5 separate regions of the Homo sapiens genome follow, and all the other regions are linked to region 1. The links come from fine-mapping of genetic effects on gene expression. A gene starts in region 1. Each other region holds a variant in brackets. All regions are shown on one strand. Distances are from middle to middle.

Evidence for each region. PIP is the estimated chance that this variant, and not a neighbour inherited with it, causes the effect.
Region 2: its variant is the best candidate, but not a certain one, in a credible set for the expression of PADI4 in whole blood (INTERVAL, PIP 0.59).
Region 3: its variant is the best candidate, but not a certain one, in a credible set for the expression of PADI4 in monocytes (TOPMed, PIP 0.79).
Region 4: its variant is the best candidate, but not a certain one, in a credible set for the expression of PADI4 in blood mononuclear cells (TOPMed, PIP 0.81).
Region 5: its variant is the best candidate, but not a certain one, in a credible set for the expression of PADI4 in monocytes (CEDAR, PIP 0.73).

Annotation. Positions count from the first base shown.
Region 1 is chr1:17,305,017-17,310,117 of GRCh38, reverse strand. It overlaps PADI4 (peptidyl arginine deiminase 4), which reads right to left and starts at 1,921. Exons shown (of 16, transcript NM_012387.3): 1 at 1,804-1,921. The coding sequence starts at 1,895. RefSeq lists an enhancer at 4,739-5,101.
Region 2 is chr1:17,338,942-17,344,042 of GRCh38, reverse strand. PADI4 (peptidyl arginine deiminase 4) reads right to left here. Exons shown (of 16, transcript NM_012387.3): 6 at 4,230-4,355; 7 at 1,922-2,100; 8 at 1,641-1,744. Among named protein-coding and RNA genes, the nearest start is that of PADI6, 31 kb to the left of the region's middle. The variant C/T (reference allele first, on the strand shown) is at 2,029.
Region 3 is chr1:17,345,059-17,350,159 of GRCh38, reverse strand. It overlaps PADI4 (peptidyl arginine deiminase 4), which reads right to left. Exons shown (of 16, transcript NM_012387.3): 9 at 4,021-4,132; 10 at 2,112-2,219. Among named protein-coding and RNA genes, the nearest start is that of PADI6, 25 kb to the left of the region's middle. The variant G/T (reference allele first, on the strand shown) is at 2,118.
Region 4 is chr1:17,278,590-17,283,690 of GRCh38, reverse strand. It overlaps PADI3 (peptidyl arginine deiminase 3), which reads right to left. Exons shown (of 16, transcript NM_016233.2): 14 at 3,262-3,341; 15 at 2,895-3,020; 16 at 1-845. The coding sequence ends at 612. Among named protein-coding and RNA genes, the nearest start is that of MIR3972, 3.3 kb to the right of the region's middle. The variant A/G (reference allele first, on the strand shown) is at 3,118.
Region 5 is chr1:17,254,745-17,259,845 of GRCh38, reverse strand. PADI3 (peptidyl arginine deiminase 3) reads right to left here. Exons shown (of 16, transcript NM_016233.2): 2 at 88-268. Among named protein-coding and RNA genes, the nearest start is that of PADI3, 8.2 kb to the right of the region's middle. RefSeq lists enhancers at 1-310, 311-812. The variant TTG/G (reference allele first, on the strand shown) is at 2,813.

The sequences.
Region 1 (5,101 bases):
GATAGAGTGACAGGCTCAACGTGTGGCTGAAGGAGGAGAAAAGAAGGATTTAGAGGCCCCTGTGAACTCCGGAGTCCCCATCCTTTCTGGGAGAAATGGGCAGTGCCTTCCTCTCTGCCCAACACTGACCAGCTGTCCACCCACCTCTCTAGGGCCAGAGGAAGCACTTGTGATCTTGATTACTACTCATGGACGCTGGGTAGAGGGCTAGCCTGGGCATGCTGGGAGAGGCCCTGGGCTAGCTTCAGCTCCTGTCATTTCCTTCACACCCATTCTCAGAGGAGTTGGGGGCGCCTCAGATGATGTCAGGTGATTTTCTTTTTCCTTTTCTCCCCAACTTCTTGGTCTCCTGCCTCCACCATGTGGCCCTGGGAGACCATCCCGACATTTCCTGCTGTTCTCTGGCTGCTGGGGCTCAGGCAGTAGCAAAGAAATGTCCCCGGCACTCCTGTGGGCACCATTCTAGGGCCACCGATGCCCAGACTGGGATGGGGAAGCCAGGGGCAACCACTCCTATTCCTGACAACAGCAATTGTTGCAGGATAATTTAGGAATCAGAGAGACCGAGGGGTTGAGGAGGATTTATTATTTAGATTCACTGGCTCAGTCAGGCTAACATTTCAAAAGACTGAGCCCTGAACAAAGAGTTAAGTTATCTTTTAAGCATTTCATGGGGCGGGGGTAGATCTGTGCAGGGGGAAGCATATTATAGAGGCAAGAAACAAAGACAGTTATTTAATTGAGACATGCATTATATTATTTTTTACTTTTTAAGGAAAAAAATTTTTACAGCTTGAGTTTATCTGTCTAGTGACCTTGCAGCTGCACAGCTGGAGAAACAGGGTCTTTACAATGCCTGGAAAAAGAGGAGCAATAAGGCTCACTAGCCACAAAAAAACAGGCAGTTAATTTTTAAGGGACTCCAGCTCTTTTTTTTTTTTTTTTCCAGGGAAAATTGTTTTTTTTTTTTTTAACATAGAACTGAGTTTTTGCTTACACGTTTTAAAATTTCTTTTAATTCCTGTTCTACAATAACAACAATGACCCTGCACACTCCCCGAGAGCATTCCTCAACTCTCTTGTTTAACCCAGACCCTGCCACAGAGCATGGCACTCAGCATTTGTTAAATGAGTAAATAAAAACTACCAAGGATGGGCCCACCACTGTGCTAAGTACTCAGCCAACATCTGCACATTTTTTCACATTGAATTCCTATAACCAGCCCATGATGTGAGTATTATCCCCATTTCACAGATGAGGCAACTGAGGCTCAGTTGCCCAAGGCCTCCTTGCTAGCCAGCAGCAGGTCCAGGCTTCCTACCTCAGTCTCTGCCGCCACAGAGCCCCGTTTCGCCATCCCCACCCACGCTATTATGCACCCACTGAGGGAGGCTTAGCTAAGAGATGTGGGGTAACAAACTGTGCTGTGAACCAGGAGGCCCAGGGGCTAACCTTACTTCCAGGGCACACGTGCTGTGTGACCTTGAGCAAGTCACAGACTCTCTGTAAGCTTCTGTTGCCTCGATGAAGACAGGGAGATGGATGGCCTGGTTTGCCCCATAATAATTTATCTGTCGTGTGTTCCTGGGGAATTTGCACTTGTACATGGCAAAGAACCCACAGCCATGAGACTGGCACTTCCCAGGGCTGCTGGGGTCTTCTCTCTCCAGCTACTCCCCTGGCAGTGGCTGCAGAGGCTGGAGCCTAGAGCCTGGGCCAAACACATGCTCCTGTGTCAGTAGAACTGGGTCATCCAGCATCTCCTGACCTGCCTCCAAAACCCCAGAAGGCCCCCCTCTTACCTGCAGATGTCAAGCTGAGTCAAGGTGCCCAGCACACACACGGCATGGGTGGGCTGCTCTGGGGTCACACGGATCAATGTCCCCTGGGCCATCGTCGGGCTAGCTCGTCCCTCTGGCTGTAGGAAGCCCCTGGGCTGGTTCCTTTATATCGCCCAGCAGAGGCCATGAGTCAGCACCTGCGGTCTGTGGCCCAGAGGCTCAACCCCTCCCCACTCAGGTCAGGGGTGTGGGCTCTCAAAATCTCCTCTGCCCTGGGGCTGCCCCTCGGACCTCTAGATGGGTGTCAATGCTGGTACCAGTGGCAGGGTGGCTCTGTCAGTTTCTTGGGAAGGATGGATGGCTCAGAAAGCCTGGGGTGGAGAGTGGGGCTGAGGGGTTGGGTCCTGGTCCTCATGCCCACAGTCCCATCCCTGCCTAGAGGCCCTGAACACCTTGATCTATCCAATCTCACCTATGTCAAACAGGCATATCAGAGAGGAGAAGGTGGGAAAAGCGGGGAGATTTTAGGTAAGCAGTCACAGGCCAGGCTACACGTTCAAAGACCAACCAGGCTTGGGACAAGTCTCTCCACCTGGGCCACCCACATGACAGCTCACATTCTCTATGCCAGGCACGTTTTCCTGCACTTCACATAGAATAGCTCATTACGACAAACCCGTGAACTAGATCATACCATTATCCCCTTATTTCACCCTCACAGCAGCCCTCTGAGGTTGGTGCCATTATTATACCCATTTTACAGAGGAGAAAACAGAGGTGCAGTTCTTCCACAGCTCGAGAGTGGTAGGGCCAGAATTGGAACCAAAGGTGTCCAGTTCCAGAGTGTGAGATTCATTAGCTGCCTGTCTATATGACACGTGCTTTCCAGACTGTATCACAGCTACATCTCGCTACAATACAAGGTGTATATGGGCTTATTATTACAACCCATTTTACAGAAGGAAAATTGAGGCTCAGAGAGTAAAAGTGACTAGCTCTTGCCCAAGGTGCCAGAGCTAGAATGCGGCAGAGCTGGGAAGAGAAGATGAGCTTCCTGGCATGGAAGTTGATGTTCTCTGCATGCTCCAGGATACCTGCCTCTTGCCAGGGCCTCTGGGTGTCAGACCAGACAGTGCAGGTGTGGGCCACGCCTGCCAGGGGGATGCCCATGTGGCCTCAGAGCTGTGGTTGCACCTGGGCCATTGGTGCCAGGCTCTGCCTTTAATGAGGCAACTGGGGGGTGGTGGATGGGTCCCAACAAGGAGCACTCAAAGGGTGCATGCATGGGAGTCTGGCGTGAACATAGAGCGTTTCGTGGGTTGGATATCTTGCGTTTGTTTTTTGTTTGCTTGCTTTGGCTTTGAAGCAAAGAATTTGCCTCATTAATTCAGAGTCAGGCTGTGGGATCAAACAGGCTTTAGTTCAAATCCTGCCTCATCTCAACATCCCTATGGAGTGCGTCCTATCAGGATGCCCATGTGTAGATGAGACCACAAAGACTTAGAGAGATTGAGTGAGACCCCCAAGGTCTCATAAGCCCTACAGTGGGGATCTGGATTCAGACCACCTTCTCTGGGCTCAAAATTTATCTTCTGTACCAGCAGATGATGATGTGGCCAGGTCCGACGTTCTGACGCATCTACATGACTGCCTGCACACAGTGTTAATAAACCCAATTTCTCTGGCTGACCGCATGATTAGAACTAGTTTGAGCTTCTACTGGGAAGTGGCAGGAGGGAGCTGTCCATTGTTAGAGTTGGGAGGGCCCTTAGAGAACACCCAATCCAGTCCTCGTTTTGCAGAAGGGGAGACTGAAGCACAGAAAGGGAGTGGGACCTGCCCACGGTCACACAGCAAATCAGAGGGAGGGCTGGCCTCTACCCCAAGTCTTAGGTCTCTTGAGGTTGTTTTCTTCTGTTCCTTCTTTTCTTTCTTATTTTCTTCAGCAGTTTGGGGTTTAAATTTGCTGTGAACGAGCCACAAAGAGGACGAGCCCCAAAGCAGTTTTGTTAATTCAACAAATACTGACTGAGTGCCTATTGATGGCCAGGCACTGTTCCAGGCACCGTGGATACGCTGTGAACAAAGTGGACAAAAATCCTGCCTTCATAGAGCCTTTTTGTTTGTTTGTTTTTGTTGGGAGAGAGACAGCCAGTAAGCAATAAATGCAGTAAGTGGATTCTATCGTATGTTAGTGGGGTAGAAAAAGGAAAAAGGACAGGGTAAAGGCTACCAGGAACACAGGGAGAAGGTTCCAAGTCAAGAGAACAGCCAGTGCAATCGGTACAAAGGCCCTGAGGCAGGGACATGCCTGGCGGGTTCAAGAAAGAGCAAAGAGGCCAGTGTGGCTGAAATGCAGTGAGGGAGGGGGAGAGCAGCCCAGGGCGGGGTGCGATCATATAGGGCCTTTCGGGCATCCTAAGAGCTTTGGCCTCTGCTCCAAGTAACGTGGGGAGCCTGGAGTCATTTTGAGCAGAGAAGGACCGCGAACCAACTTGCTTGAACGTGATCACTCTGGCTGTGATGTGAGAACAGACTGTAGGGGACCCGGGAGGAGGCCAGAAGACCTGTGAGGTGGCCGCTGCACACAGGCTGGTGACAGACGGTGGGGCTCAGGCTAGCGTGGTGGCAGTGGAGGAGGGGAGGATGGGTCAGGTTCTGGACATTTTGTGATGCAATACAGCCAATAGGAGTTGCAGAGGGACTGGATGAGGGGTGTTAAGAAAGACAGAGGGATGGAGGAGGACACCGCAGTTTGGAGCCTGAGGCCCTGGAGGGATGGGGCTGCCCGCAGCTGGGCAGGGAAGGCTGAGGGAAGGGCGGGGGGTGGGCATGGTGGAGATCAGGAGTTTGGTCCTGGCTTTGCCAAGTGTCATTTGGTGTGATGATGCCCTGTAGGACGTTTGAACACATGATTCCGGAGCTTAAGAGACAGGACCAGGCTGAAAAGGATAAAACAGTGAGATGTCAACATCTCCAGCTCCCCTAGGGAATGAGTGAGGATAGGGAAGAGAGAAGGCCGAGGGATGAGCCCTGGGGTCCTCCACCAGAGACCCAGGGGAGTGATGAGGGAGAGGAGATGCAAAAGAGAATGCATGCTATTTGCAATTACACAGGGAGCAATGCAAAACTAGGTTTGTAACACACACACACACACACACACACTCACTCACACTGAGGGAAAACGGCTGCACTTTGGAAGCAAAGCCTCTTTGTAGAAACACACTTGGTCACTCACAGTGGAACAAGGGCCACGGGCTCTGTGATGGGCAGGGCTGAGGGCAGGAGCCAAGGGCAGTGGAATGAGAGGCCAACAGAC
Region 2 (5,101 bases), 34 kb before region 1:
CTCTAGAAAGTTCCAAACTTTCCCACATTTTCCTGTCTTCCTCTGAGCCCTCCAAACCGTTCCAACCTCTGTCTGTTACCCAGTTCCAAAGTTGCTTCCACATTTTGGGTATCTTTTCAGCAACGCCCCCCTCTACTGGTATCAATTTACTGTATTAGTCCATTTTCACGCTGCTGATAAAAACATACCTGAGACTAGGAAGGAAAAGAGGTTTAATTGGACTTACACTCCCACATGGCTGGGGACACCATGGTGGGAGGCAAAAGGCACTTCTTACATGGCGGCGGCAAGAGAAAATGAGCAAGATGCAAAAGTGGAAACCCCTGATAAAACCATCAGATCTCATGAGACTTATTCACTACCATGAGAATGGTATGGGGCAAACCACCTCCATGATTCAAATTATCTCCCACCAGGTCCCTCCCAGAACACGTGGGAATTGTGGGAGTACAATTCAAGATAAGATTTGGGTGGAGACACAGAGCCAAACCATATCAACTTGGGAGAAGACAGAATATGAGTTCACTGTTCAAGGTCACACCACCTGGAACAGTGCTGGGACCGGAATACAGTCCTCACTGGATTCCAGCCTGCGTCCTGACCACATTACCCTCTTACTCTTCTGCCCCTGAAGCTATCAGAAGAGGGGAGGAGAGGGTCTCCTGAGACCCCAGCACACTTGTCAGCGGCTCTCAGACTGCAGGAAGATTGCCTGGGCCTCCCCAAAATGCAGATGGGCCCCGTCCTCAGGGATAAGACCCAGCAGCTCACAGGCAGCCAGAAAGGTGCATTTTATTTAATTTAAATTTAATTTAATTTAATTTAATTTTTAATTTTTATTATTTTTAATTTTCTCAAGACGGAGTCTTGCTCTGTCGCCCAGGCTAGAGTGCAATGGTGCAATCTCGGCTCACTGCAACCTTGGCCTCCTGGGTTCAAGTGATTCTCCTGCCTCAGCCTCCCGAGTAGCTGGGATTACAGGCACATGCCACAACACCTGGCTAATTTTTTGTATTTTTAGTAGAGACGGGGTTTCACCATGTTGGCCAGGCTGGTTATTTTATTTTTGAGATGGAGTCTCACTGTGTTGCCCAGGCTGGAGCGCAGTGGCGCAATCTCAGCTCACTGCAACCTCCGCCTCCAGGGTTCAAGCAATTCTCGTGCCTCGGCCTCCTGAGTAGCTGGATTACAGGCATGCGCCACCACGCCCGGCCAATTTTTGTATTTTTTAGTAGAGACAGGGTTTCACCATGTTGGCTGGGCTGATCTCAAACTTCTGACCTTAAGTGATCCACCTGCCTCAGCCTCCCAAAGTGCTAGGATTACAGGCGTGAGCCACCGTGCCCAGCCCAGAAAGGTGCATTTTAAATGAGTTCCCAGGAGTTTCTGGTGCACAAGGTCCATGGGACACACTCTACAGGCCCCTGGGAGTTAACGTAGCCTCAGCTGCATCAGGGCAGGACAGAGGCAATGACAACAACAGTAGGGAACTTCCCTGCCTTTTTAGAGCCCCCAACAAGCAGCAAGCTCTCAGTGGGCAGGGGAGGGGTGACTGTTTTTCCCATCACACAGTGAGTGCTGCGGATGGAACTCAGGCTCTTTGTTGTCTGGACCCACCCCAGCACCCCAGGACCTCTCACCTGCACGCGTACACCTCCTGCGGGGGCTGGGTGTTGGGGGTCATGATCCAGGGCGCCACGCGGAAGACCACGCTGTCTTGGAACACCACAGCCTCGGGGAGCTCCTGCAGGGGAGGGGGTAAGGGGAAGGAGGGGCTGTCACCGCTGCCAGGGCCCAGCACCTACCACTTCCTGCAGCTGTTTGGAGTCCCCCTGCCCAGCTGGGCTCTGTACCCCTTTCCCTAGCCAGGCCACTGCCTGGAAGCCCAGGCCCCCGATGCAGGGCTGCCTTCTCGGCCTACCAGGTTGGACGTGTCCAGCAGGGAGATGGTGAGGGTAATGAGCCCCGGGAAGTCGGTGTCCGGGAAAGCGAGGGCCTCCACGTAGAAGTCCATGTTGTGCTTTCCAC[C/T]GGGGACCATCAGGTAGTGAGAGGGCCACTTGGGACCCAAGACTACGCTGCACTTGGAGGACAGTTTGCCCCCTAGGAGAGAGGCAGGGGAGACTCAGGTCTGCGTCCCCACTTCTGAAGACTTTTCCTCCTCTCCTTAGTGCTCCCCAGAAGCCTTTCCCAGGGTCACCACATGGCACCATCAGAGAACCCCTTGCAGCCAAATCTGGCCAGTCCCCTTAGGAGAAAAGGACTGAAGTTCTAGCTGGGACGCTGCTCCCCGGCTGAAGTCCCAGAAGGGTGTGGCAGGGGTGCCTGAGCTATTCCAAACTTTATAGGAAGTCCAGTATACACCATTCCTTCACTCATTCCTGAGCATCTGCTCTAGCCAGATGTCAGCGGGGGACAGGGGCACAGCAGGGGACCAGGGAGACAGAGTCACTGTCCTCCTATCCTCACCCCCAGAGAGTGCACAGTCTTACGGGTGAGTAGGGAGAAGCAGAGATCATGAAAATAGCAGACAGCTGTGATAGAGGGAATCCCTGAGAACTTCCTGGAGGAGGTGATGCCTGGGTGGAGGCAATAAGTTGACCTGTCACCAAATCAGTGTCAGTTTAATCACTTTAAGAATGAAACAGGCCGGGTGTGGTGGCTTACGCCTGTAATCCCAGCACTTTGGGAGGCCGAGGCAGGAGGATCACAAGGTCAGGAGATCCAGACCAGCCTGGCCAACATGGTGAAAGCCCATCTCTACTAAAAACACAAAAAAATTAGCCAGGCATTGTGGTGGATGCCTATAATCACAGCTACTCGGGAGGCTGAGGCAGGAGAATTGCTTGAACCCAGGAGGTGGAGGTTGCAGTGAGTTGAGATTGCGCCACTGCACTCCAGCCTGGCGACAGAGAGAGACTCCATCTCAAAAAAAAAAAAAAAAGAAACAGAGGCTGGGCATGGTGTCTGTAATCCTAGTGCTTGGGGAGGCTGAGGCAAGTGGATCATTTGAGGTCAGGAGTTCGAGACCTGTCTGGCCAACCTGGTGAAATCCCATCTCTACTAAAAATACAAAAATTAGCTGGATGTGGTGGCACATGCTTGTAACCTCAGCTACTGGGGAGGCTGAGACAGGAGAATCTCTGGAACCCAGGAGGTGGAGGCTGCAGTGAGCCAAGATGGCACCACTGCACTCCAGCCGGGGCAACAGAGTGAGACTCTCTCAAAAAAAAAAATTAAAAAAAAAAAAAAAAAGCTTGGAATAGACCAGGCAGAATGATCAGGATCAGAATGATTGTCAGGCCCATGCAAAAAAAAAACCCTCCCATGGCGCTCTCCATCTCCTTCCATCCAGAAGCCAAAGTCAATATACGCCTACCTGACCTCCCCCTTCCCCTCTGCCCTGTCTCTTCCACCCTCATCCCCCACTTTAACCCTTGCACATTCCGCCCCAGCTGCACTAGCCTCCCTGCATTCCTCCAAACCACAGGCATGATCTCACCTCAGGGCCCACGCACTTGCCGTTCCCTCTGCCTGGAACGCCCTTCCCCTAGGTGTCTGTCTGGCTGTTCCTATACCTCCCTCTGCTCACATGGCACCTCATGGGGGACACCTTCCCTGGCCACCCTCTCTCCACACAACCCGAACTCCACTCCTCACTCCACATCCCCTTCCCTGCCGCATTCTTCTACATAGCATGTCACAGCGTTGGACACACTAGGTGTTTTATGTAATTATTTTACCTATAGTTCTCCCAGCCACTAAGATGAAAGCAACACGAGGGCAGGGACTCGGTCACAGTCATGGCTCTGTGCCCCGTGCCTGGGATCAACCTGGCACCTACTTAGTTGCAGGTGCTCGTGGGTCACTGAGAAGTTCCTGATGTCTCTGATTAGCAGGATGTTGCAGAACAAATGATTACATGCCACATGCTGTCAGCTTGCACTCAAAGTCTATAACCAGGAGGTGTGTGTGTGTGTGTGTGTGTGTGTGCGCGCGCGTGTGTGAGAGAGAGAGAAAGAAAAGCAGGGAGCAATAACGAGTCATTTTGTCTGTGTCCTCCAACTGGAAGGTAGTAGACGAGATGTCGTCTGTCTTGCCCACTGCTGCGTCTGCTGTTCTTAGAACTTGGCACATAGTAGGTGCTCAGGATTTATCTGCCACACAGCTGTGTGACAGGATTGTGCCCCGTTGGCCAGGGCAGGAGGGGAACAAAGATGGGGATGACTTACGTGTGGCCTGAAACACCCTCACTTTGTCCATCTCAGACCTGGCCACGTGGAGCACCAGTGTATGGTTTGTGAAGAAGTCCTTGGGGGTCTTCGTGCTCAGGGTCATCAGCGACATGTCCTGCAGGTCTGGGATGAGAAGGGCATTGCCTGAGTCACAGGGCCCTGAGACCGCTGCTGGTTTCCCATAGCCACCTCACCTCCTGGTGGAGCCTCACACCCCACCGCTCCCCTGAGACCTCCCTTTACCATGTTGCCTGGTTTTCTTTTCTTTATGCTATTTTGAGTATTTAAATGATGGTTTTCATTTTGGAATGAGAGCTCATTAAGGTTTTGGTCTCCTCCCACTAGGATGAGCTGGGGATGTAACCTCAGCAAAGCGGGGACCACATTTATTAATATTTTGCTCCTTGCAACGTTCCCTGAATCTTGAACCTAGAAAGCCGAGAACTCCCTAGAACAATGACCAGCAGGCGGCAGGCGCTCGGCTGAGATTTGTGCAATGAACGAGTGAAAGGTTTCTGTGCTGGTCCTGAGCAAGAAGTGGGGTTTGTGAACCAACTTGAACAATAGCCAAGAAGGGGTAGAGGGTGGGGAGAGTGAAGAGATGGTTCCCAAGGGACTGACTGATAGCCAAGGGCTTAAAGGCTTTGCGGTCAATTTGGTTTGAATCTGGGATCTGGGTGGGCTTAGGAAACGGATTTCAGCTTTCTCTGCCTCTGTTTCCTCATCACTAAGACAGGGGCAAGAGTTGTACCCACCGTAGAATGGTTGTGAAGATAAAGTCAGGTGATACACAGTGCTTATACCAGCTCTTGGCACCCCGGGAGTGCCCACAAAGGACAGCTGTTGTGATTATTACCGCATGTCAGGCA
Region 3 (5,101 bases), 40 kb before region 1:
GGCAACGAAAAGTAGATGAACGAGTCCATGATTTTAACAAAATACACTGAAGAAGTCAACAGGGGGCTGTAGTGGAGAAGGCTAGGAGTTGGGGTGGGAGTAGGGATCCCTCTTTTAGCATCAGGGAAGGCCTCACTGAGTAGGAAATAGAAGCTGAAACCTGAAGGCTGAGAAGCAGCCAGCCCCGTGAACAGGGAACAGCACTGCAAGCAGAGGGAACGGCATATGCAAAGACCGTGAGGTGGGGAAACGTTAGGCAAGTTTGAAGAACAGGAAGGAGGCCAGTGGAGGTGGGGCTGGGTAAGGGACAGCGAGAGTGGCCTACAATGGTGCTGGAGAGGCAGGTGGGGCCAAAGCCTGGTGCTGAGTGTGACTTTTTCTCCAATTCTCTTCATTCTGAGTGATTTGGGTGTTTTTTGTTGTTGTTTTTTCTTTTTCTTTCTTTTTTTTTTTTTTTGATACAGTCTTGCTCTGTCACCCAGGCTGGAGTGCAGTGGTGCAATCTCGGCTCACTGCAACCTCTGCCTCCTGGGTTCAAGGGATTCTCCTGCCTCAAACTCTTGAGAAGATAGGATTACAGGCACACACCACCATGCCCAGCTAATTTTTGTATTTTTAGTAGAGACGGGATTTCGCCATGCTGGCCAGGCTGGTCTCGAACTTCTGACCTCAGGTGATCCATCCTCCTTGGCCTCCCAAACTGCTGGGATTACAGGTGTCAGCCACCACACCTGGCCTCATTCTGAGTGATTTGAGTTGGAATACACAGATGTGCTTAGCTGAGGGACCAGTGCTGCCTGCCTTCATCCAAAGTTGTCTGTGGGAAAGGGGACAACAATGGTGCCGAGGTGTCCGTCTGTCTGTCCAGCAGGACTTGTGGCATCAGAAAATCTGGCCTTTGTTATACTTGGAGCATCAAAGTAGACACAGCCACTGAACCAGGCAGGACTGAAAGCAGCAGAAAGAGGGCAAAGTCACGGTAGCAGCTGGCTGGTTCGCCCCAACGCTGCTGAAACAGGATGAACTCGACCCCATGGCTGAGTACACACTGTGAATCCAACAGCATCTCTGCATCTCCACTGCTCAGCGCACAGCTTGGCCAGGAGGAAGCGAGACTCGGGACAAGTTGTTGAGTTTAACTGAAGTTTCATTCTGAAGCCTTCTGTGTGGGCAGGGCCACTCTCCCCTCCCTTGGGGCACAGTACAGATGCTTGTCGGAAAGCCATTTGTCCTAGCAAACCTTGGACCCCACACTCCTTCCGTCGTTTTCCCTGGGCACCTTGAGCCAAGGGGCTGCCAGGACTCAGAGCGCAGGCCTGGGGTCTTCCTGGGAAAGCAGGGAGAGGGAGGCAGGGCGGGGAAAAGCATGCTCACCAAGCCGGACTGGCCGGGTTTGAATTCCAACTTCTCCACTCTGAGCCTCAGTTTCTTCTTCTATAAAATGGGCCTATTGATAGAATCTCCATAACAGTTTATCAAATTAAATGAGTCAGTGCAGGTAAAGAATGCAGCACTGGCTAACACACAACTCATTCTCAATAAATGCAACTATTATTATTATTGTTCTGTGCTGAGTTTGCATCAACCTGCCAGGCTAGTCAAGCATGAGTCAGCAATACGTCACTTCCCACCTCCACATGGACAGCCTGTGGCTGATAAAGTCACACCCAGGAAATGACCACTGATCCACTGATCCCAAAATCCCCCATATCCCAGATGGAGCCCCTGAAGACCAAACACCACCCATAAGACAGAGCCTCCAGCTGGGCATTGGGAAAGATTCCAGCCCCGGCCCCACCTCCACCTTGCAGCAAGAGCTTCTTCAAGAGCACAGGGAGGTCCAAGCCTGAGCCACCTCCTCGGCAGGGTTACCTGGAGATCAAGCTGAGCTCACGGGTGACAAGGGTTTTGGGAAATGAAGAGCCAGATCTTATCTTGGTAATAAAAAAATAACAAGCCCCACCTACATGCTCCCACTTTGGTAGGAATTCCACCTCCTTGCACTGGGCTACTCAGCTACAGGCGCGGGCGGGGAAGGCAGGCTAAAAGGAGGGAGTCTCAAGACAAGAGGGTTTCGGCAGCTGTGCCCCCTCCCCACCCCATGCAGGTACCATCAC[G/T]CGTTTGATGGGAAACTCCTTCAGGCCTCTGTTCCTTGGAGAGTCGAAGACCACGGGCAGCGTTTTGTGTGGGGCTTGGATGTAGCCGATCTCCATTTCATCCTGTGGGAGTGAGTGGAGAGGAGGCTGTTGCGCGTGCTGCCTGGGTCTTGGTGCCCGACGCCAGGATGGGGGCATGAAACCATCCACTCACTCTCACCCTTGCAGTCAAGGGCACATTCCTATGGGATGTTTGATCTCAGAGAAGGGGCTCAGAAGCGGAGCTTATTGCCCCCTGTTTGCCCAGTGCACGAGAGGCCATGAGCCTGCAGGAGTGCCCTTCCCTCCTACTCCTGGTGGTGCCTGGGCCAGTGCTGGGGACCCCTGGTGAGCAAAACTGAGACCCCTCCTCAAGGTGAGAAAACAAGGGAGCCAGGCAGTGGGCACCAGGGTTAGGAGGTGATGGGGGGTGAGGGGTTGAGGGGTCTGTGGGGACACAGAGGAGGGGCTCCTGATGCAGCTAGGATGGGCCAGAGAAGACCTGTTGGCGCCAGAGCTCGCGGCCTCCTCCCCAAAGGAGGGCAGATAAGACCCAGCCTGGGCCACTGGAGCAGCAGGAGGAGCACGGGGAGGTTTCAGAAATGAATCTGCTGAAAATTCCGCCTCCGCAGGCTTGTATTCTAGCAGGCAGGTGTGATGTTGGACATAATCACTACTATAAGTTACTATTAGGATGAACCAGATGAAAGTTCCACTCTTGCAAATCAAAAATGGCACATATCAGCAATTTCACACAGGTCAACTTGGTATCAAAAAAATGGAATGGCGGCCAGGTGCAGTAACTCATGCCTGTAAGCCCAGCACTTTGGGAGGCTGAGGTGGGTGGATCACCTGAGGTCAGGAGTTCGAGACCAGCCTGACCAACACGGAGAAACCCCATCTCTACTAAAAATACAAAATTAGCCAGGCGTGGTGGCACATGCCTGTAATTACAGCTACTCAGGAGGCTGAGGCAGGAGAATCATTTGAACCCGGGAGGCAGAGGTTGTGATGAGCCGAGATCGAGCCATTGCACTCCAGCCTGGGCAACAAGAGTGAAAAAAAAAAGAAAAGAAAAGATGGAATGGCAAGAAAGGAAGAAAGGATGTTGTGTGGGGGTGAAAAGAAAGAGGGATGAATTCCTGCTGGGGGTGATGGGGGAAATTTATGGACGAGGAGCATTTGTGCTGGGATTCACCGGTATGGATTGGAGATGGGGGATGGGAATGGGGAGATGGGTCCAAGAGACAGCACCGCAGGGGTGCGGCATGGAAGGACAGGGTCCCGAGGCAAAGCAAGGCAGTGGTGGGGAGGGTCAGGGTGCTAGGCTGGATGAGGCCCAGTCTCAGTCCTTGGGGCACTCCTGGCATGATGGGGGAGTGGCACGGAAACAGAGACTGGTAATCATGTGTTTCCAGGCACAGTGGCAGGCTGGCCCCAGGGAAGGGAACCAGGCAGGCTGAGAGGGCCTGGAAACAGACTAAGCAGGAGGAGATGGGAGCCATGGAAAGTGCTGGAGCTGGGGTGTGACCTGCTTTGGTGGCTGGGCCCAAGATGGACAGCCTGGAGGGAGGACCACTTGAGGGGCTGGTTGAGCACCAATCTCCTGAGCTTCACATCATTTCCTGAGGCCACCTGAGTGTTTTCAAGCAGGAAGGTGGCTTCATCTTGGTGACTGCAGTGGGCCTGCAGTGGCCCACAGCAAACGTCAGATGAATCACTTGCTTGAGCCTCCCGGCCCAAGGATCTCTCAGGTTCCTATCTCCCTGTCCATCTAAGGAAGAGTGGCCGGTGAGGCACCAGGCTGAACCCCAGGAGCCCGGGTCCCCCAAGTGTCTCTTGGCCCTCAGGGACAGTCACCCTGCCTGCCCCGCAGGGCACATACCTGCATCCACTGGTCATCCATGTTCTCCTCCTCAGGGCAGATGGTCAGCTTGCACTTGGCTTTCATGGCCAGAGTAGTCACTGACTTCAGGAAGTCCTCATTTTCAAAAATACTAGAGAGAGCAGAAAAGCAGCTCCTTAGTGCTCTGGAATTTGAAGCTCAGCCTGGAAGGATTGGGAGGGACACACAGGTGGCTCAGGGGTCACCTGTGGCCTGAACAGAGGCTCCTGGCACGTCCGGTCCATCTGCTCTTAGCAGGCATTAGCTCATGGAATCCATCTAACAAGTTATGAGGCAGGAACTAGTGGGTACCCCTTCCACCCGTGTATTAGTCCGTTTTCACGCTGCTGATAAAGACATACTTGAGACTGGGAAGAAAAAGAGGTTTAATTGGACTTACAGTTCCACATGGCTGGGGAGGCCATGGTGGGAGGCAAAAGGCACTTCTTACATGGCGGTGGCAAGAGAAAATGAGGAAGAAGAAAAAGGAGAAAAACCTGATAAAACCATCAGATCTCATGAGACTTATTCACTATCATGAGAACAGTATGGGAGAAACTGCCACCATGATTCAAATTATCTCCCACTGGGTCCCTCCCACAACACTTGGGAATTATGGGAGTACATGTCAAGATGAGATTTGGGTGGGGACACAGAACCAAAGCATATCATCCTGCCCCTGGCCCCTCCAAATCCTATATCCTCACATTTCAAAACCAATCATGCCTTCCCAACAGTCCCCCAAAGTCTTAACTCATTTCAGCATTAACCCAAAAGTTCACAATCCAAAATCTCATCTGAGACAGGGCAAGTCCCTTCCTCCTATGAGCCTGTAAAATCAAAAGCAAGCTAGTTACTTCCTAGATACAATGGGGGTACAGGTGTTGGGTAAATACAACCATTCCAAATGGGAGAAATTGGCCAAAACAAGGGGGTTACAGGGCCCATGCAAGTCCAAAATCCAGCAGGGCAGTCAAATTTTAAAGCTCCAAAATGATCTTTGACTCCAGGTCTCACATCCAGGTCATGCTGACACAAGAGGTGGGTTCCCATGGTCTTAGGCAGCTCTGCCCCTGTGGCT
Region 4 (5,101 bases), 26 kb after region 1:
GAAGCTCCTACTATGTGACAGCTCACGCTGGGTGAGGGTCAACATCTGGGCAGGAGCTTGGCCGGGTGAAAGATGGTTCCGCCCTGATCTAAGTGGATCCACAGCTCCCTTTTTATGGGGGAGGCTTTAGGAAGAATCTCTCCTGCCTGTCCTGCGTGGAGTGGTCTGGTTTTAGGGTTGTTCCTCTGCAGAGAGGAAGCAATTGGACCAAAGCAGAATCATGGATCCTTCCTCTGTTAGGATGCACAGGACAAGATGGCTGATGAGATACGTGGATGTTTCTAGACCCCAATGTGGATTTGTCCCCAAATGGATGATTTCAGAGTGAGAAGGGGACATCTCCATGGGTTGTGTTGAATCACAGGAGAGGCTATAAGAAATGAGGTCCTTCTTTTTGGGGGGCCGAGAAGATTCAAGTCTGAGAACCACATGGGTTGCAGGTGAGGCATGGACACTTCCAGGGAAAAGGCTTCTGAGAGGGACGGTCACCCTCAGTGTTCCATCTGGAGCCTTGGGGTCTCTTGGTGCTTATCGTTCAGGGGCCTGTCTCTGTCTCCACCACCTGGGCCAATGCCCGCCCCAGGGGGACAGGATGGTGGGTGGGAGCTGTCTCAGGGCACCATGTTCCACCACTTGAAAGAGAAGGGCTTTCTGCACACATTGGTGCCACAGTGCACCTCCCCATGCAGCATGTGGTATGGAGTGAAGTCATCAATGAAGGTGCAGTGGAGGCCCAGCGGCTCCAGCAGGGACCGCACCTTCTCCTCCAGGCAGCAGCAGCCATTGATGATGGGCCCAAAGGGCTTGGGGATGCCCAGGTGCTTCCCCAGCACCAGCATGTTCACCTGCAGTCCAAAGGGGAAGCAGCACTTCATCACTGGGCTCCCACCCCACACCTCTACTCTACCTGCAGGACCTAGGTTTGTGTTTTAGACAGCCTTGTCAATAGCTACTCACCCTTTCCTGTGCAATGAGAAGGTAACTGGCTAAAGGGGCTGGGAAGAACCGGTTAGCCAGGTGCCTTTGGGAGCATCCGCAGAACTCACTCTGGCAACGTGCTCTGGAAACTGCCCTAATGTGAATTTGGAATTGTGGATTGTGGCAGCTGCCATGTTTGTGCTGCAGAATCCCAACCTTCTAGGCCATAACTGATTGGGCCAGGGAGAACAGCTGGTCCAAGATGGACCAATCAGAGTCCCTCTCCCAGGAATTTGAAACTGACAATGGGAGCGTCTAGTTGGTCTCTGCCCGTGTCAGTGTCTCTGTGCATGGCCATACTCATCTTTGTCCCCAGGAACAGAGAAGCAAAGGAAGCCAAGCTGGAAGAAGAGGGAGAAGAAGTAGGAGGTGGAGAGGGTGAGAGAAAGAGAGAGAATGAATGATGTAGACACAGAAACAGAGAGGGTTCCAGGCTCTGCTGCAGCTATCCTGCCCTCAGGTTTCTGGTGTCCTTATATTAAGACTCCCTCTGGCTGAAGCTGGCTTCAGTAGGACTCTGTCTCTTGCGAACACAAGAACCTGAATCATTGCACAAACTTCTTGGGGCACATATATAATTACAAGATAGCCTCGAACAGGAAGGAAGGGGAGTGAAAAGAGGCTTTGCAAGCGGAGGGCAAAATGTTGCCTGAAAAGAGGAAGGAAAAAGCGGGGCATGAAGCAATGGTGGTGTGGACAGGTTCCCCACAAGGCTCTGACAATGGGCAAATTGAGTTCTTTTAGGGGATGAGGTGGGGAGGAGTGGAGAGGGGAGCTGGGTGACCTATAGCAGTGCTACTCAAACTGTGTTCCTCTAAAAGGCAGCATCAGCACCACCTGGGTGTTTGTTAGCGCGGCAGCAGTGCCTCGGGCCGTGCTTTAGACCTGCTGAATCAGGACCGCTGGGGTGGGGCCCCACCTGTCCAGGTGTTTCAAAGGCAAGCTCAAGATTTAGAAGCAGGCCAAGCACGGTGGCTTCCGCCTGTAATCCCAGCACTTTGGGAGGCCGAGGCTGGTGGATCACCGGAGGTCAGGAGCTCAAGACCAGCCTGGCCAACATGGCAAAACTCCATCTCTACTAAAAATACAGAAATTAGCCGGGCGTGGTGGTGCACGCCTGCAATCCCACAATCCCAGCTACTCAGGAGGCTGAGGCAGGAGAATCGCTTGAACCCTGGAGGCTGAGGTTGCAGTGAGTGAGATTGTGCCACTGCCCTCCAGCCTGGGCAACAGAGTGAGACTCCGTCTCAAAAAAAAAAAAAGAAAAAAAGAAAAAAAGATTTACAAGCATCAGAGGCAAAGCCCTCAAGGCTCAGTCAAAAGCCACTTCTTCCATGAAGACTTCCTGGATCTCCAGTTCTACCTCTTAGGCTGGAAGTGCTTTGTCTCACCTCCAAACTGCCACATCGCCTTATCCTACAAAATAGATCACTGGGACATGTCCTCAGAGAAGGGAAGAGTTTCCCTCTCAACCGATTAGACTGAAAGTCCCTTGAGAGCAGGGGGCATTCTTAATCATCTCTGCATCTGCCACAGGACACCCTAAATACATGTGGGATGGATGAAGAGCCACAAGCTGGGAGGAAGAGAGCAGAATGAGCATCTGGGTTCCCAGCTGATGCCATGTGCTTTGCACACGTGACCTCATGCAATCATTCATTCACTCCACAAATGTCAAGTGGACCCCTTCCCTGATGCCCCTTGGGCCAGGGCTTGGCCAGCAAGCATTCCACAGGGACCATGGTGGTCAGCCAGCTAGAAGCCCTTCTGAGGAGCACCATAGGACCCCTGATTCTCCCTGCCACCCCCACTGGCCACCACAATCCTAAATATGACTGTGACCAGACATTTTTCCTCTCTCGAGCTTAGAGGTTTGCAGCCTGATTTGGCAAAGGAGTCATGGGTAGTGCCCTCACCAAGTCAGGGAAGAAGGCCGTTGCTTTTTTCCTCTCGGTCTTGAAGAGCTGTGGGATGTCAATGATGTCACACTCTGCCAGGCCCAGCTCCCGCTTCAGCACCTCACGGTTCCAGTCGATGCAGCTCTGGGGGCAGGGGAGGGCCAGAGTTGGGGACACCTTGCCAGTGTGTTTTGGGGGCACCAAGGCATCCTGTCGCTCCCCTCACTTCTTCTGGGTCAAA[A/G]GAGGGTGTTGGGACCCCTCTGTCTGGGCCTGTTCTAACCTGAGCTTTCATGAACAGTTAGCCTCAGATGTCTGTATCCCATCCTTGCCTCCAGCCCCGCCTACTCCCAAATCACAGCCCACAGGTACACCACAGCCCTTGTACCTGCACAAACTTATTGTAGTTGATGAGGTCTTTATTGGAGAGCACCTGGTTGATGGAGATGGTCTTGACCTGCTCATCATCTGTGAAGGAGAGAGATGAAAGAGAAGGACAGGGACAGCACCAACGTGAGGACCACCTGCTTAGGGAAGCAGACAGGCAGGAGCCAAGTTCACAGCTAATGGTCTTGCCGAGTCAGCAGCCTCTGACTTTCCCAGGCCTTGGGTGGGTTCCACCTGTCTGAGCTTGCCTTGGCCACTGTGCACATCTTGGGGTATAAGGAGTGGGAGGGTCTGGTTGCCACAGTGGAATGAACTGAGACCTTTATTTGAGTTCACTGGAAGTGGTAACGCCTGTCACTGGAAATGTACAACTGCCCGAGGGCACTGGATGAGGAATCCTCTTGCTTTGGCTTAGCGGGGAGCTGGGTCAGTTGCTGCCCACCCACCCACCATCAGTCAGGTTTTATAGGTTCACTGAGCAGCGAACCAGCCAGTCCTGGGATTCAGACACCATCCAGCCCCAATCCTGCCCTTCAGGGGGTGACTGCGTGAAATGGGGACCTCCCAGGGGTCCAGATTTTCTCAGCCTGATGGTGTGCCCATGCAGATGAGACTGGACAGGGAAGCGGAGGCTAGAGTCAATGGCACACAATCCTCATGGCTGCTACTTAGTAAGCGCTTACCATGAGCAGGCCCCGAGGGGAGTGCCCAGGTTCAGCATCTCATTTAACCCTCACGGTGACCCCCACAAGGTATGCATTATGATCCCCACTTTACAGATGAGAAAACTGAGGCTCAGAGAGGTCAGAAGACTTGCCAAAGGTCACACAGGTAGGATATGTGGGGGCTTGTGATTCAAACCCAAGCCCAGGGCTCGCACAGGGCCTCAAGCCTTGACCAAGGGAAAGGAGAGGGCTCCCCTGACCCATCTGCAGGTCTAACGCCCGCTTCACCCCAGTTTAAGGCAGGAAGCTGGGGTCCAGTCCCAGCTCCACTGCAATCTTGCTGAGGCCTCTGGGCCAGTGACATCCCCTCTCTGAGCCTCACATTCTTGGGAATAAAGGTGGGTGAGAGTCATCCCATTTGATCTCTCGTGAGATCAAATGAGATAACACGTGTGATGCACACAGCGTGAGGCCTGGCGCACTGAGGTGTCTAATCAGTGCTCTGGCCTCTGTGTCTGGCCTCTGTGTCTATGTAATTAATCGCCACAGTCACTGCCTGAGTGTCAGCCCTCGAGGGTGGGGTGGCTGCTTGTGGCCTGCCATCTGTGAATTCTCCCACGCTCCCTCCCAGCTGGGCAGGTTGGAATAACTCTGCTCAACCCATTCCTGGGTCTTGCTCACCATAAGTTCTCCCAGGAAAGATGAAGGTGGCATTTCTCCCTGCCTGGTACATAATTTGGATTTAAGGATTTCTAAGACTTACTCTAGGTTCACCGGAGTCTAGTTAGGGTGCGTTTGGGAGCAACAGGGTCAAGAAAGACTATTTCTCTTCCATTTTATTGCTAAGGCTCCAGGGTTGTGTTGGAAGAAGTTAACGCTAGCAAACAGAGAGCAAGGGGACTTTGGAAATTATTATACTTGGGGGCGTCTAAGTTCTACAGGAGCTTTTTTTCTCTCTGAGCTGTGTTTGGTCTAGGATGCTATCTGCCTTCCCTGAGGCCATGGGACCAAGAAAATCTATGATCCTGCGTGTCAAAGGGTCTTTGCCCTGGGACCTCTGGGGTCACTGAGAAAGGGAGGATCCTCTGGGATTCATGCAGTCTCAGTGGGGCTGGAAAGGGAGTGAATTTGAGAACGCTTCCAGCAAGCTTGCCAGATGACTCCAGTCCAGCCAGC
Region 5 (5,101 bases), 50 kb after region 1:
TCTGGAGAAAGAGAATGTTGGGCCCTCCTAGAGCTAGACAGCTGCCTCCCTCGAAACCTCTCCCCACCCCACCAGGGACCAGCTCACATGGCTGTCGTTGAGGTCATTGCTGGGGGAGTTCATGACCACGATGATCTCCAAAGTCGCGTCAAAGCGCCACCGCCTGGTGTCTGCACGCTCCCGGCCCCTCTCCATGTTGGGAGAGATGTAGATGTCCACGCCAGGCGTCCCATAGACCTCAAACATTTCTGTGCCCTCAGGCACTGACCTGGGCAGGGCAGAGAGCCATGGTCGGTGCCGAAGGAGATATATTTTGCTCAGATGTTTGAGCTTTGGCTCAAGCCCTGCTTCCTCCAGGAAGCTTTCCTTGGCCACCCAGTCCCCTCAGATCCTCACAGTAAGCTCCTGCGAGTCAAGCCTGGACCCCACACAAACATATACACAGTCGGCCGGGCGTGGTGACTCACTCCTTTAATCCCAGCACTTTGGGAAGCCGAGGCGGATGGATCACTTGAGGTCAGGCACTTTGGGAAGCCGAGGCGGGCGGATCACTTGAGGTCGAGCCTGGCCAACATGGTGAAACCCTGTCTCTACTAAAAATACAAGAAAATAGCCAGGCGTGGTAGCATATGCCTGTAATCCCAGCTACTGGGGAGGCTGAGGCAGGAGAATCGCTTGAACCCAGGAGGCAGAGGTTGCAGTGAGCCAAGATTGCACCACTGCACTCCAGCCTGGGCGACAGAGCAAGACCCTGTTTCAAAACAAAACAAAAAAACATACACACAGTCTGATGTTCTAAGCCCCTGTGTTCATTAACATTTCCCTTGTGAGTTTCTTTACCACTCACCAGAATGGCGAGCTCTTCGGAAGTCAGAAGCCAGCCATGTGCTCGATAAATCCCCAGTGCAGGTCTGGGCACGAAGAGCTCAGTGAACACCAGCCATTGGTGGGTGGAGCCCCTTACAGTTCTGAGAGCTTTAAAAAGAGCAATTCTCACCCCAGATCCCATCACATGTCTCCTTAGTGGGTGGGAAGATATCCTTGAATTCTTCCCTGGGAAGGGAATTCAATCTGGTTGAGTGCCCGCTGCATGCCAGGCACCTGGCGCACGCAGCTCCCTCCACTCTTACAAGCTGTAAGGTGAGCAATATCATCCCCATTTGGCATATTAGCAACTGAGGCTCAAGGAGGCCTCGTGACAAGCCTGAGGTTGCATCACATGGCAGAGCCAGATGTGCAACAGGTCTGACTCCAAGCCCATGCTGTTCCACAGCTCTGCAGTGTCACCCGGGAAACTTGGCCGGATTTGGTCAAACAACCAGAAATTAATTGCAGGTTTAAAGTATCTGTGATGTTATCTGGCCCTGAGATTGCATTTCCCTCATTCCACCTAGCCTGGGGTTCCTCCTTGGAAACCAGACTATGCATCCTTTGACTGTGGGGTGCCCACTGTGCACTCAGGTACTGCCTGGCGGGCAGATCCACCCACTGCTCTCCCCACTGTTGATCCCGCTGGGGAGCTGAGGACCAACATTGTCCAGGGCAGCCAGATGGGGCTCAAGGCCACAGGATCACAGCTCAGTGGGAACCCATGTAGGGAGAGGCCACTGCGAGTTGGAGGGCCTCCTGGAGGCAGCGGCATGCATGCCCCTGGGGGATAACAGTGACTGACACTTACTGAGCTCATGCTGTGTGCCAGCCCATCATGCAATCCTCTCAATAACCCTAGAAGGGAGGCACTATCTATTATTGTCTCCCATTATACAGATGAGAAAGCCGAGGTTAAGTAACTTGCCCAAGGTCTGTGGCCGGGCTGGGATCCAAACCCAGCCATGTGGCTCCTCAGTCCACACTCTTGCCCACCACCTCCCCAGGAGTAATAATAACAACAATACCATAACATAAAAAGCCCCCAGCCTCTGCACTCTTATCACGGCAGGCCTGCCTAAGCCTTTTTGTACATTAGCTCATCTGATCCTCACTGCAGCCCCAGGATGAGATAATTACTCCTGTTTACACATGGGGAAACTGAGGCACAGGATACGTAGGGGACTACCCCAAATTTCCACAGCTGGCCACTCCCCCCGCTTCCCATCTTCCCTCAGAGTAAGGCAGACCTCCCCCAAAACAACCTCTTCACTCTTCCACCAACATGATTCTCTTACATCTCAAAGCAGCTTTTTTATGAAAAGGGAAATAAACCAAGCCCAAGCTTCTCTCCATCAGGCAGGTCCCACTCTGGTGTCTGGGCCCCTGTCAGGTGTCCTCACCAGTTGGGAGGGACAGACACACCTGTTTCTCCTCCTAAGCAGGGCTGCCAGACTTAGCAAATAAAAATACAGAAAGCTCAGTTGGACTTGAATTTCAAGTGAACAGTCAATCATTGTTTGGTACTCCCGTGAAGTATTTGGGATACACTTATACTAAAAAAATTATTAATTATTTACCTGAAATTCAATTTTAACTAGGCATCTTTTATTTTATCTGGCAACCCTACTCCCAAAGCCTGTAATTTCCAGGGCTGGTGGAGCCCTCTGGCCTGTTTGGCCCTGGGCAGCCCCCCACAGGGGAAATGGCAGAACCAGGGAGAGAGGCATGAAGACACAGAGACAGAGAGATAGGGACAGAGAGACTTGGAGAGACCCAGCGAGATGGAGAGTCAGAGACAGGGAGTCGGAAAGAGACACAGGAAGACAAACCCAGGTAGGAAGAGCAGCCTCTCATACCCTCGGGAACACCCTCAGCCACGCTCCTGAGGCACTCGCCTTCCATCTCCCAAGGAAGCCTTTTTTTTTTTTTTTTTTTTTTTTTT[TTG/G]AGACAGAGTCTTGCTCTGTCGCCCAGGCTGGAGTGCAGTGGTGCAATCTTGGCTCACTGCAACCTCCACCTCCCGGGTTCAAGCAATTCTCATGCCTCAGCCTCCCAAGCAGCTGGGACAACACAGCCCACCACCGTGTCCGGCTAATTTTTGTATTTTCAGTAGAAACAGGGTTTCACCATATTGGCCAGACTGGTCTTGAACTCCTGACCTCAAGTGATCCGCCTGCCTCAGCCTCCCAGCTGGGATTACAGGCGCGAGCCACCGCGCCTGGCTGAAGCCTGTACACTTTTTATGGAACTCCCTCAACCCCAAAGCTGTTCCTTGGGCCTCCAGTGTCCATGGGCAAGGGCTGAGCGCCCTTGATGGTCCTTCTGGTATGAAAACCCCACTCAGTCCCCAGGCTCCAGCCCCTGGGTGTAGGGTGTTTCAGCCCAGCGCCCCTGCCTCTCCATGTGCCAGGCTCTGTGTGAGATGCTGGGGGATCCCCAGTGAAGACTGAAGCACCCCTGCCCAGGAGGGTCCCCAGGACCACGGTCTGAACAAGGGCTTAGCACAGGTGAACAAGCTACATCTGAGGTTGGGGAAGGGAGGGGCTGCAAGCCGAGGGCTCAGGTGGTGCTGGGACCAGAGTCAAGAATTAGGTTTTAGACCAGGCTGGGTCACACATCGGCCAGCTGAGCTTGACTAAATCACTTAGTCTCTCTGGGCCCATTAACCTCACCTTAAAGTGGGATAATGACACCTACTTGGCCAACCTCATGGGCAATCATGAAACTCAAGTGTGATAATAGACAGGAAAGGCTTGCAACACCATTGGCCCAGGACAGGGAAGGAGTTATTAAAGTAAATGAGGGTGCAGGAAACGGGTCTGGAGGCAGGATGAGACAGTGGGCTGGGTGGCTGGGGCAGGTTCCCCAGGGAAGGCACCAAGAGGAGACACAAGTGAGGGGAAGGTGTTTTCACCGTGGAACCTTAAGAGGTCTAGTTTAGACTCAGGCTATAATGAGCTTGTTTTCATTTCATCCCTATGTAATGGGGAGCCAGCGCTGGTTCTTGATCAGGAGGGGCAACATGATGGAGCCGTGGCAAGGTACTTGAGCCTGTGGTCCCTGGGGCCAGACAACTGGGTTCAAATCCCAGTCCCACCACTCATTAGGTGTGTGACTTTGAGCGAGTGACTGCCTCCCTCAGCCGCAGCATCGACATCTATCTGGTGGGGATGAGGAGAAGATGAAAGGAACCAGTGTGGGTAAAGCACTCAGGATGAGCAAAAGTCATGCCCTCATTTCACTGATGGGGAAACTGAGGCCCAGAAGATAAGTGACTAGAAGGTAGGGCTGCTGACTTCCAGTCCAGTGCTCATGCCTGTCATGAAAGCTGTGTGTTAGGAGAATGAGAGGGGCAGCTGCTGGGAGGAGAACCTGCATCAGGTACGGGAGGATCTAGCTTCCCATTTCCTAGAGAACAGGGGAAGTACCTGGAGCCTCACCTGGACAAAGTCCTTCCTCTCCAGGCCACCTCGAGCTGCCAGCATGGCTGAGCTGTCACATGCTGGCTTCTGGGCTTTCTAGGCAGTGCTTCTGGTCCAGTCCTGGGCTCAGGGCCTTGGACCCTCGCCGCTGAGGCTTCCATGCACAGGCCTGTCCAGGGCTCTCCCAGCCCCACACCCCCCAAGCCAGCCGGAGAACTCAACTGCTCCTCTGGCACAGCCAGCCTAAGATGGTGAGTTGGGGGTAAAATGTGGTAGGGTGGCCAACAGCATCAGTTTGCTGGGACTAAGGCTGTTCCTGGATACAGAATTTGCTGTGCTAAAACCTGCAAGGTCCCAGACAAACAGGAACAGTTGGCCTCCCTAAAAGTAGCCAACCTCAGACCCACCTTATTGAAAATGCAGATTCTTAGAAGTGCTCCAGGTGGGGCCTTGGAACCGCATTTTAAGCCATTCTGATATTTGCTGACATCTGAGAATCACGGCTTAGAGTAGGTTGTCTTAGAAATGCTGGAGCCTGGTGGGCCAGGCGCAGTGGCTCACGCCTATAATCCCAGCACTTTGGGAGGCCGAGGAGGGTGGATCACCTGAGGTCAGGAGTTCGAGACCAGCCTGACCAACATGGAGAAACCACGTCTCCACTAAAAATACAAAACTAGCCGGGCGTGGTGGCATATGCCTGTAATCCCGGCTACTAGGGAGGCTGAGGCAGGGAATTGCTTGAACCTGGGAGGCGGAGGTTGCAGTGAGCCAAGATAGCCCCATTGCACTCCAGCCTGGGCAACAAGAGCAAA